Regions from separate parts of the Homo sapiens genome. Here all the other regions are linked to region 1. The links come from fine-mapping of genetic effects on gene expression. A gene starts in region 1. Each other region holds a variant in brackets. All regions are shown on one strand. Distances are from middle to middle.

Region 1 (4,146 bases):
GGTTTGCTGGGGCTGCCAAGGCAGAAGCCTGAATCATCGGCACGGAACGGAAAGCCACACCAGCTAGTGATGTAGGCACATGCAAACTTTCTCCTTCCTGGCGCCCCGGTGCAGAGTGGCCTTGGGGGCGGCTGCTCCTCCGGGAAGGTGGAGCAGCTGGAAAAGTGCTTGCTCTCAGCAGCTGTGGCCGCTGGCCCTGACCTGTGGTGATGCCGGTGCTGCTCCTCGGGCTGACCTACGTCCGCTCGTGATGAAACAGACCCACCGGGAGCTGGAGGCTTTCATGGATTCTGGGGCTCCCAGGTGCCACAACTTGGGCCCCCCTGGGTAATGAGTCCTGCCAAGCCCTGCATGATCCTCAACTCCATCCTCCCAGGAGTCTCAGGTCTCAGCTTCAAGCTTCTCCCATAACAACTTTCTAACGCGGCCTCGGGCACCCCCAGGACAGGGGGCCGCCTAGCCCAGTGGTCGAAGCATTTGGGGTGCCTTCGAACCTCAGGGGCAAAGGACACTGCACCAGCAGCCTCCCAAGTGTGGCGTCCCCACCCTCCTCTTTCCCCACCTTCAAGAGTGGAGGGGTCGGCGCAGCCTAAACCTGACGGCCCCCACTCCTGGAGCGCCAAGCCAGCCCCCCACCCCACACTCCTGGACCTAGGCACTGCCTGCTTCTAGAGCAGCTCCAAAGATCCTCTGCAGAAGTTCCCTCGGAGAGCAAGTTTGCGTCATTGTGGGGGCAGGGGGATTCCTCAAGTCTCCACTGGAGGGGTGGGTGCCCGGTGCGGGGGGAACCCAGGTTGCTGCCCGCTGCTGAAGGGGCTTCCGCGGCCCTTCCCTCTCCTCTCTCCTGTATATTCCCTCCCACAGGGGCGCAGAGGGGCGCGCACCCGAGGCCGGCCTGACCCATCGCGCCCGGGGTGGCCACTGTCCCGGGCAGGGCTGCCCCCACTCCGCCCCGGCGCCCCCGCTCACCGTTGAGCTGGTTGTAGACCACCTCCTCCAGGTGGTCCAGGCGCTGCAGGATGGCCTCACGGTCCCCCAGCGTGCCCACCTTGGCGTGTCGGCTGCGCACCCGGCGGTCGCCGCTCACGATGCGCACGAGCTCCTGGGAGCGGCCCTGCAGGCGGCAGTACACGGAGAACAGGACGATGCCCACGAACACCAGGATGTTCACCGTCAGCAAAGTTCGGATCTTCCTGGCCACCGCCATGAACACGGCTGCAGCGGGGGCCTCACCCGCGGGGCATCCCCAGCATCCCCGCCCGGGCCTGGGCTTCAGCTTCGGCTTCGGGGACCATGAGCCGCCCGGGGCTGCGGGGGCTGCGGGGCTCGGCCGGAGCTGTCCCTTCAGCACCAGCTCAGCGCGCCGGGCCACGGCCGCCGGGGGTCCCCCAGAGCGCAGAGGGCTGCCCGGGGCTGGGGTCGCGGGGCGCGGCCGGCATCCCCCGCTCAGAGGGCGCGGCCCCGCCCCGGGGAGCGGTGAGGGGGGCCGGGGGCGCCGGGGGGCGGCGGGGAAGGCGCGGGCGGGCGGCGCTCGGTGTCTGTGCCGGCTCCTGTCCTGCCCGCCCCGCAGCCACCGCGCCGGTGCAGAGTGACGCGGCCTCACCTCACCTCATCTGCAACCGCGGCCCCAGGACCGCCCCGCCCCGCCTCCCCCACCCCTCAAGGCCGCCCCCCGGGACCGCCCCGCGCGCCTGCCCCGCCCCCCCCACCGCGCCCCCCCGGGGACCCCAGGACAGCAGGTCCGGGGGGCGGGGGACGGGGGGCGGGGCGCGCGGGGTAGCCTGGGCCAAGGGCGCGCGGGCGCGGGGAGCGGGGGCGGGGCAGGCGCGGACCCTCCCTCCCCAGGACCCGCCAGACGCCCGGGGCCCCCAACGGCCAGCACGGTCCGAATCGACCCCAAGCTTGACCCGAGGGCAGCGGGGCCTCCGGGAATGCCTGGCCAGGGCGGTGTCGCCGGGAGTGAATGGGGGAGGGGGCGGCCGGGGCAGGACCCGGGTCAGGGCCACTCTGGTAGTCTCCTGCCCACCCCTCCCCAAGCCGAGCTCCCGGCCTCCCTCCCTCTCCCCCGTCCAGGGCTGAGGACTGGGGAAGCTGAGTCCCGGGACGGGTATGGGGGGGTTGGGGCTTGGGATGCAGCCGGACCTCCGGGAACAGCAGGGGGCCCTGGAGCCACCAGGAGGGAGAAGGCCCCGTCCCTGAGCCAGGCTCGCAGGTAAGACCCGAGGCCGCAAACCCCGGCTGCCCCCACCCCCAGCCCAGGCTCTGATCTGGCCCCACACTGGCGTTTTGTGGAGGAGACCCTGGAAGCCAGGGGAGATGTCAGCCAAGCCGCGCAGCACAGGGGCCCAACTTCCACTGGCAGAATGCAAGCACCCAAGAGGCAGGAGTTTCACCCAAAGGCAGGGTTCACCCCTGTGTTCCCAGAGATTGGACACATAGCTGGTGTTCAGTAAACATTTGCGGGATGAGTGAATAAATGACGGAGCATTTATTAAGAGCATGGCTGTGCTTGGCTCTCCATACAGAGATGAGTAAGGCAAGGGGCTTCACAGCTCTTGGCTGTGTGTGTGTCCGTGTGTGTGCATGAGTGTGCATGCATTTGCCTCTGTGTGCCTGTGTATCTGCATATGTGCATGTCTGTGTTGTCAGCACGCATGCATGTGCATGTGTCCACGTGTTTCTGTGTGCATGTCTGTGTGCCCGTGTGTGCATGTATCTGTGTGTGCATGTGCCTGTGTCTGTGTGCATTGTCTCTGTGTGTGTTCATGCGTGTGCATGTGTCTGTCTGTGCCTGTGTGTATTTGTGTATGTGTCTATGTATGTCTGTGTGTGTGTTCACATGTGTGCATATCTCTGTGTTCATCTCTGTTTGTTCATGTGTGCATGTGTCTCTATATCTGTGTGCATCTATGTGTCTGTGTTTGTGTGTCCATGTGTGCATTTGTCTGTGTATCTGTGTACGAGTGTCTGTGTGTCTGTGTGTGCATGTCTGTGTTTGTGTGTTCATATGTGCATGTTTCTATGTATATATGTCTCTGTGTTCATGTGTGTTCATGTCTGTGCATGTTCACATGTATGCATGTTTCTCTCCATGTGTCTCTGTGTGTGCATGTTTCTGTGTATGTATGTCTGTTCATGTGTGTGGTCTGTGCATGTTCAAATGTGTGCATGTCTGTGTGTTCATATCTGCATTTGTTCATGTGTTCATGTGTCTATGTGTGTGTTTGTATGTATATCTGTGTGTGCATGTGCCTGTGTGTGTGTGTCTGTGTATGCACATGTGTGTAGGGGGATCTGGGGGGTTCTGGCTCTGAGCTTAGTACTCTATTCTTCAAATATCCGTTTCTTGGCATCGGGCATGACAGCCTATCCAGCTTGGAGGTTTTCTGCCCCTTGGCTGAGGCTGGGCGAGCCGAACACCCATTTCTCCTTTCTTTGTTGAGCCATTCTTTTCTTCCTCAGGATGTTTATCCCAGGAAATCCAGAGGATCAGAACCAGGCAGGACCCGGCACTGGGACGGAGGCAGCTGTCTGCGGGGCGTTTACCGTAGATACGTATCACCTGTTCTGAGACAGAGCCTGGGAGGCTGTTTTTAATCATCCGGGAGGTGATTACTATGCAGCCAGTGTGATAAACCCTGGTCTGTTTTTGATCAATAGCCATTCCCGTGTCCCTCCTGAAAATGCCGTATTCTTCTGCTTATAAAATGCAGGTTGTAAAATGTTTCCCGACGTTACGAGGACAGCTGCTGGAATAATGATGCAGGTAGCTGGCACACACGCAGTGCAAAGGTTTCACCAGACATGGTCTTCTATGCCTATCACCTGGTCAATACGAGCAGCAGCCACGTTAAGGTGTAATACACACTGGCGTCATCTAACGTTCCATGTGAGGAAACTGAGGCACACAAAGGGCAACTGGCTTGCTCAAGGTCGCGTGAATGGCAAAGCGTGGATCTGGGATTCAAGCCCAGACAATTGGGCTCCAGAATTGACTTTATTAGTCATGATCACTCCAGAGAAAACATCAAGCACTTTTCATTACATGTTTAATGAAAATGATGTTAAAGTGGTTTTGTAGGAGAAAACATTTCATTCATGTAAATACATTTTACTGCATTCTAAAATCTAGCAGGAAAAGATGTG
Region 2 (4,146 bases), 29 kb before region 1:
ACCCACTCCCACCACACCTAACCCACCCCCAACACACCTAACCCACCCCTGAGATAACCAACCCACTCCTGAGATGACTCACTCCCATAACTAACCCACTCCCACCACACCTAACCATACCTGAGATGACCAAGCCACTCCTGAGATAACTCACTCCCATAACTCACCCACTCCCACCACATCTAACCCATCCCTGAGATAACCAAGCCACTGCTGAGATAACCCACTCCCATGATAACTAACCCACTCCCACCACACCTAACCCATCCCTGAGATGACCAACCCATTCCTGAGATAACTCACTCCCATAACTAACCCACTCCCACCACACCTAACCCACCCCTGAGATGACCAAGCCACTCCTGAGATAACTCACTCCCATAACTCACCCACTCCCACCACATCTAACCCATCCCTGAGATAACTAAGCCACTGCTGAGATAACCCACTCCCATGATAACTAACCCACTCCCACCACACCTAACCCATCCCTGAGATGACCAACCCATTCCTGAGATAACTCACTCCCATAACTAACACACTCCCACCACACCTAACCCATCCCTGAGATGACCAAGCCACTGCTGAGATAACCCACTCCCATGATAACTAACCCACTCCCACCACACCTAACCCATCCCTGAGATGACCAACCCACTCCTGAGATAACTCACTCCCATAACTAACCCACTCCCACCACACCTAACCCACCCCTGAGATGACCAACCCACTCCTGAGATAACTCACTCCCATAACTAACCCACTCCCACCACACCTAACCCATCCCTGAGATAACCAAGCCACTGCTGAGATAACCCACTCCCATGATAACTAACCCACTCCCACCACACCTAACCCACCCCTCAGATGACCAACCCACTCCTGAGATAACTCACTCCCATGATAACTAACCCACTCCCACCACACCTAACCCATCCCTGAGATGACCAGCCCACTCCTGAGATAACTCACTCCCATGATAACTAACCCACTCCCACCACACCTAACCCATCCCTGAGATAACCAAGCCACTCCTGAGATAACTCACTCCCATAACTAACCTGCTCCCACCACACCTAACTCATCCCTGAGATAACCAAGCCACTGCTGAGATAACCCACTCCCATGATAACTAACCCACTCCCACCACACCTAACCCACCCCTGAGATGACCAAGCCACTCCTGAGATAACTCACTCCCATAACTAACCCACTCCCACCACATCTAACCCATCCCTGAGATGACCAAGCCACTCCTGAGATAACTCACTCCCATAACTCACCCACTCCCACCACACCTAACGCACCCCTGAGATAACCAAGCCACTGCTGAGATAACCCACTCCCATAACTAACCCACTCCCACCACATCTAACCCATCCCTGAGATGACCAAGCCACTCCTGAGATAACTCACTCCCATAACTCACCCACTCCCACCACACCTAACGCACCCCTGAGATAACCAAGCCACTGCTGAGATAACCCACTCCCATGATAACTAACCCACTCCCACCACACCTAACCCACCCCTGAGATGACCAAGCCACTCCTGAGATAACTCACTCCCATAACTAACCCACTGCCACCACACCTAACCCATCCCTGAGATAACCAAGCCACTCCTGAGATAACTCACTCCCATGATAACTAACCCACTCCCACCACACCTAACCCACCCCCACCACACCTAACCCACCCCTGAGATAACCAACCCACTCCTGAGATAACTCACTCCCATAACTAACCCACTCCCACATTAAGGGCATTAACCCCTTGGAGAGGGCAGAGCCCCTGCAGACCTCTCTCAATGCCATGGTGGGGGTGAAGCTTCCCATGTGGGGGCAGCGGGCGACGCATTCACAGCACAGCACTGACCGTTCCTCGTGCAGGCGTTGCACAAGCTTTGCTTCCTTTAATCCCCAGGGTTCCCTCCGAGCCAGCTGCTTTTGTCACCCCCATGTAACTGATGAGACTCCTGAGGCTGAAGTTTGGGCCCATGGCCAGGAGGCAGTGAGCCCCAGCCACACTCCGTCACAGTGCTCCGAACTGCAAAGCTCTCAAAGAGGGTGTCCAAAGGGACCAAGAAAGGCACCACCCCTGTATGGTGGCAGGCAAAGGCGTTAAATAGCCACTAAACCATGGTCGCTCCACTTTCAGGAGAGGAAGGGCATCCTCTCCCAAAGAAGCAGGTGACAGTGCCTGCCTGGCCTTGGGGACCACGGCTGTGCTTCCACTCCGCGCCCTGTTTCACAGACAGAAGTGCTGCTGTGGTGGGCACGTGGGAATGGTCCATACGAGAACCACACAGGGGTTTCTGAGCCAGACCAAGGTGCCAGCTGGACACTTCCCCTCCGGGGCACA[T/C]AAAGGGTCCCTGTCCATGGGGCTGCCCCATCGTCGGCCCCTGCCCCTCCCAATTCCACCCGGAGGTAGGGATGGCTGTGCGAACATTCACCGCCGGCACAGCAGGAGGACTGCCTGGTGGCCGCGGAAAAGGAACATGCCATGTGGACACATTCAGGTTGAACCAGCCCTTGGAGGAGGGACCTGGGGCCCCACTCGCTGGCCAGAGAGGGAGGCCAAGCCCTCCCTGGCAAATGCAGCCTCCCCCATGCCCTGCACAACCTTCATGACCCTGGACAGGGCAGGTGATTTGGATGCGGCTCCAGGGGGGCACGGAACATTTGTGTGCCACCTTCAAGATGGAGGGGTCTGCATTTTGCTTTTTGCCTCCACATAAAGTTATGGCCACAGATGCCTTCTGTGCCGTCAGAGGTAGAATTCAATTGCAGTCGTAGCAATGACCTTCCAACCACTAGGTAACATCCATCAGACGCTTGTCCACAGAAACACCTGCCTGACAACCCCGAGGGGCTCACGTGTTTATCACTTATTTATTAATTACATATTTAGGATTGCTTATTTCAGAAATTGAACCACTGTGTCAAAGATAGAGAAATTTCATGAATCTTGGTGCCAAGTCATTTTCCAGAAGGTTTAGATTAGTTTTGTTTCACTGCCAGCAATATATGCTTCCACTACTTTAATTAGAAAGTGCATCACTTCTGATTGGAAAAGTCATAAATGCTTTTGGTAGAAAATTCTACACACACACACACACACACACACACACACACACACACAGGATCACCTGGGGTCTCTTGCTGCAGGGAAAACTAGTATCAGTATTTTCACACTCCATATTATTCTGTAAGATCACGTAATGCCTCAGCGCAGTTCGATCCATGTATCTGGTGTCTGCCGCCTGCATTCTGTTTTTATCACTACGTCTTGAGTATTTCCCCACGTCACTAAAAATTCTTCATAAACATAACTTTGATGGCTGCAAACATAAAATGTCAATTTGTAGCCGTGCCATTTATTCACCCATCCATTATCAAAACTCACGGAGCGTCTGCTAAATTCCAAGAGCTGCCTGGGTGGGGCAGGTCCAGGTGGCCCTGGTGAACGCAGCACACACCTGCCTGCCCCCCAGAGCTCATGCCCCATCATGCCCACAGGTGAACAGGTGCCAGCCCAGGGCAGCCGCTTCCACGCAGGTGTGGGTCAGAGGCAGGGGCAGGATCCCCAGGAAGAGGAGTCGGAGGGAAGAGAAAGGCCAGGAGGGCAGGAAGGTGTCCTGTGAGTGGCTGCGCATGCAGGTCAGGGCTGTGGCAGCAGAAAGGGGACGGGACGGGGTGGGAGCTTTCTGTGCCGCTGGGATCTTGCTTTGAGCCTTGTAGGAAGTGGGAGCGCAGAGGAGCTTTGAGCTGAGAGGGAGAGAGGAGGGTGGGCACAGTGGTCAGGTTTTCTATGCAGAGGGACCACTCCGGTGACCGTCTAAGGGGGGCGAGGGTGGAACCCAGGGGCCTGTGCAGAGTCTGATGCTCCGATCAGCCCTGGGGTGAGACGGTGTGTGGACATGGAAGACGCGGTTTCCCACCCTCTGTCTGTCTCTCTCTCGGGAAAGCCTCCCTGTGTATTTCAGGACTAGCCGTCCCCATGCACACTGTGGCTGTCACCCCTGTGGCCTTCACCCGGTAGTCCCCGTCAGACCCTCCACCGCCGGGATGCAGTGACTGCCCAAGGCTGGGCAGGCGCCCTGAGTGGATTCGTCACCAGGAGAGAGGCCCCCACCCCGGGCACC
Region 3 (4,146 bases), 120 kb before region 1:
GCAGTCTTACTGTGATCCGCTCACTCCGTCCACCCTCTCTCGTCCACCTGGCCATTCTGTGTCCCTCATCCTCTGTCTCCACCGTGGTTTTCCCGAATATTCTCTCTGTGAAAGGCAGCAGGCCCAGAGCTTCCCAGAGCATTTCCCCCTCTCCGTCGAGGGGACCCTGGGGCAGGTCCTTCAAGAGCATTTGTGGGAATTAGGAGATGGGCACGGAAGGCTGAGGAGTATGTCCAAGTCACCCAGCCAGCACCTGAGGCAGCCAGACTCCAAACTTGGTCCCCAACAGCAGGCCACGTGCTCACACACTGCACCCCTGCCCTGCAATCCACGCCTGTGGGCTGTGGCCCATGTGACGGTTTTACATCTGCTCAGGAGGTGAAGGTCCCATTATTCAGTGGATGTGAGGTGCTGCTGGGACCATGTCTGCAGCTGTGAGTGATGCTTGCGTCAGTGGACACTCCGCATGGCAGCGGACGTGCACGCAGGCAGGCCCCACCCAGCCAGGCATTGAGAGAAAAGACGGGTGGGGAGTTCCCAGAGAAGGATGCCAGCCTTCAGACCGTGACACGGAAACCCCACCCGGGTCTACAGCCTTCACACCACGACACGGAAACCCCACCCGGGTCTGCAGCCTTCAGACCTCGACACGGAAACCCCACCCGGGTCTGCAGCCCTCAGACCTCGACACGGAAACCCCACCCGGGTCTGCAGCCCTCAGACCTCGACACGGAAACCCCACCCGGGTCTGCAGCCCTCAGACCTCGACACGGAAACCCCACCCGGGTCTGCAGCCCTCAGACCTCGACACGGAAACCCCACCCGGGTCTGCAGCCCTCAGACCTCGACACGGAAACCCCACCCGGGTCTGCAGCCCTCAGACCTCGACACGGAAACCCCACCCGGGTCTGCAGCCCTCAGACCTCGACACGGAAACCCCACCCGGGTCTGCAGCCCTCAGACCTCGACACGGAAACCCCACCCGGGTCTGCAGCCCTCAGACCTCGACACGGAAACCCCACCCGGGTCTGCAGCCCTCAGACCTCGACACGGAAACCCCACCCGGGTCTAGCAGCCCTCAGACCTCGACACAGAAACCCCACCCGGGTCTGCAGCCCTCAGACCTCGACACGGAAACCCCACCCGGGTCTGCAGCCCTCAGACCTCGACACGGAAACCCCACCCGGGTCTGCAGCCCTCAGACCGTGACATGGAAACCCCACCCGGGTCTGCAGCCCTCAGACCGTGACACGGAAACCCCACCCGGGTCTGCAGCCCTCAGACCGTGACACGGAAACCCCACCCGGGTCTGCAGCCCTCAGACCTCGACACGGAAACCCCACCCGGGTCTGCAGCTCTCAGACCGTGACATGGAAACCCCACCCGGGTCTGCAGCCCTCAGACCGTGACATGGAAACCCCACCCGGGTCTACAGCCTTGAGACCGTGACACGGAAACCCCACCCGAGTCTACAGCCTTGAGACCTCGACACGGAAACCCCACCCGGGTCTGCAGCCCTCAGACCTCGACACGGAAACCCCACCCGGGTCTGCAGCCTTCAGACCTCGACACGGAAACCCCACCCGGGTCTGCAGCCCTCAGACCTCGACACGGAAACCCCACCCGGGTCTGCAGCCTTCAGACCTCGACACGGAAACCCCACCCGGTTCTGCAGCCCTCAGACCTCGACACGGAAACCCCACCCGGGTCTGCAGCCTTCAGACCATGACACAGAAAACCCACCCACTGCCCACCTTAAGGATCTCAGACTTGGCAACCCCACAATTGTGTGAGCCAATTCTTAGAATCAATCAATTTCTTCACACACACACATGAAAATGCACCGCAGATGCACACGTGTGCAACATAATCACTCAGTCAAGCATACACATGCACTGTTACCCCCACACACAGGCACACTCACACCCACACACACGCACTCCACTCACACACAGGCGCACTCACACACACGCACTCCC[A/T]CCCACATACAGGCGCACTCACACAGTCACACACAGGCACTCCCACCTACACACAGTCACACACACACACTCACACACATGTGCACTCAGCTGTCATTCCTGTCAGCCTCTGATGTACCTGCAGGGACAGCTCATTCTGTGAGCACCTAGGGGTTCTGGGGTCAGCCCTCATGTCCGAGGAGGGGTGTTCAGGGGACATGAGGCCCACTGTGGCCTCTGCATTCTCCAGGTGGCACCGGGGACCTGAGGAGGCCCCAGCTTGCTGCCAGCTCTCTCGAGCAGAATGCAGACACGTCCCAGAAGCTGAAAGAAAGAGCCTCGACTGCATCAGTTGGTGCGCGTGGGCGCTGACAGTCCAGAACAGCCCGGTCACGGAGCAGCCCTGGAGATGCAGGCCCAACCCCACCCCCTATGTCCGCACACCCTCCCTGCAGCATGAGTCCAGGGACACCCGCGACTCCGAGTCCTCAACCACCCCCGCTCCCTGCCAGGTCAGGCGTGGGGATGGGGGTCTGGGCCCCTCAGTCCTCCCAGGTGAAAGCCGGGACACCACCCTCACAAGGATTACCAGGAGGGGCACTGACCCCAAGGGCACCTGGAGAAGAGAGAGCCGATTCCGGGGTGCCGTGTGTGAGGTCCCTGATGGTGGCTCCTTTGGAGATGGCTGGAGAACCACGCCTGTGATTCCACTGTCCCTAACCAGGCCAGCGACTCCGCCCTCCCTCACCACACCGGCGACTCCACCGTCAGCAGGAGCCCAGGGATGAAGGGGGCGAGCAGGAGCGGAGCCCGTGTATTAATCATGCTTTCATATTTTCTGTATCTGATGCTTTGACATCTGGAACCTCACTAGCCCGAGAGGCCTGCCCCTCCCGGGTGAGTGATTTCCTAGAGCTAGTGAGCACCCCCCCAGCGTCTTTCCAAATGCAAACCAGGCAACGAGAGTCCACGCCCCACCAGCCAACGCGAATCCACAGCCCACTGCCTCTGTCCTTCACTCTGGGCTACCATCCTCCCACCCAACCACTCAGGAGGATGGCCCATGCCCCAGAGCTGCTGAGACGATGGAAGCCAGGCCCCCCAGGCCTGCTCACCCGGCCTTGCCCATTCCTGGCCACATCCCCCTCATACCCTCTGCCTCCTGTCCAGCCTGGTGCCTCCTGGGTGGCCCTGCCTGGTGGTACCCCCTTCTCTGGGATCCGTGCGTAACAAACCATCTCACCAATGGCCATTGTCTCCTGGCCTGCTGGCTGCGCTGTCCTGAATAACGATAAAGCCACTTGGAGACCAGGGCAGGCGGTGGCACCCTGTTCCTGCTCAGTTCTGTGGCACGCCATTCCTGCTCAGCTCCTGATCTTGCAGAGCAGGGGATGCACACCCGTCACAGAGGCCCATCTCACTGTTCTACGCGGATCTGGAAGATTCTGGCTGACAGGCAAAGCCAGCGTGAGGCTGTGAGAGTGGAGAAACCTGCCGGCCTCTGTAGCACCCTCCGCTGGTGCTGACTGGCCTGTCAGCGTCCTCACCTGCCACGCTGTCCTGCCCGTTTAAGGGCGTTTGGGAGGAAACGCGACACAATCGCTGTTGGTTTCCAGACGCCGGGTCTCCGCAGCTCTGGGTGGCTTTGTGGCCGCTTCGGCAGAACAGACACAGGTTTCATCGGGGCCCTGCCTGGAGCCCCAGCTCTTTCTCGTGGTTTGCAGGTGACACAGCCCAGGCTCTCAGGGACAAAAGTACTTCCTCGCACACCGAGCTGCAATTTACCAGCCCTCCTGTCGGGCTGTAGGCCCCACACACGAGACACAGTCAGTTTCTAAATGGAGGCCAGGACGCGGCGCCCGGCACCGCCTGGATGCCACTGCAGCCCGGGGAGGATTGCTGGGTGTGGCCCTCGCTCTTGGTGAGGCTGTTTGTGTGCTGGCCTCGACGGAGAGCACAAGCAGCTCCTCCAGGGAGGGCGTGCTTCCTCCCTTTCCCAAGAGCGCTGCCATGCCAGGGCTTGGCGAGTGCGGGGACCACTCCGAGGGCCAGGCAAGGCTAGCGTGGCCCAGGGTCCACTTGATCCTGCTTGTTGGCTCCAAGACCGAGGTTCAAGAATGAAGCCAGCCCTCTTTGTATCATCAGGACACACATGCCAACCAGCACCCGGGTCCCACGAGGCCGGGCT

Direction of the effects. Positions count from the first base shown, and alleles are read on the strand shown. Sizes are in standard deviations (SD) of each study's normalised expression. Not every link is listed here.
As copies of A replace T in region 3, the expression in lymphoblastoid cells of the gene that starts at base 1,593 in region 1 goes down (moderate effect, 0.61 SD a copy in GENCORD).

What was found. PIP is the estimated chance that this variant, and not a neighbour inherited with it, causes the effect.
Region 2: its variant is the best candidate, but not a certain one, in a credible set for the expression of GALNT9 in aorta (GTEx, PIP 0.60).
Region 3: its variant is the best candidate, but not a certain one, in a credible set for the expression of GALNT9 in lymphoblastoid cells (GENCORD, PIP 0.50).

Annotation. Positions count from the first base shown.
Region 1 is chr12:132,327,997-132,332,142 of GRCh38, forward strand. GALNT9 (polypeptide N-acetylgalactosaminyltransferase 9) reads right to left here and starts at 1,593. Exons shown (of 11, transcript NM_001122636.2): 1 at 970-1,593. The coding sequence starts at 1,207. It overlaps LOC101928416 (a long non-coding RNA gene), which reads left to right and starts at 1,854. Exons shown (of 2, transcript NR_120467.1): 1 at 1,854-2,212; 2 at 3,463-3,579. RefSeq lists an enhancer at 1-231.
Region 2 is chr12:132,299,126-132,303,271 of GRCh38, forward strand. The region is part of intron 1 of GALNT9 (polypeptide N-acetylgalactosaminyltransferase 9); the gene reads right to left. Among named protein-coding and RNA genes, the nearest start is that of GALNT9-AS1, 26 kb to the left of the region's middle. The variant T/C (reference allele first, on the strand shown) is at 2,364.
Region 3 is chr12:132,211,554-132,215,699 of GRCh38, forward strand. All of the region lies in intron 6 of GALNT9 (polypeptide N-acetylgalactosaminyltransferase 9), which reads right to left. Among named protein-coding and RNA genes, the nearest start is that of LINC02361, 24 kb to the left of the region's middle. The variant A/T (reference allele first, on the strand shown) is at 1,980.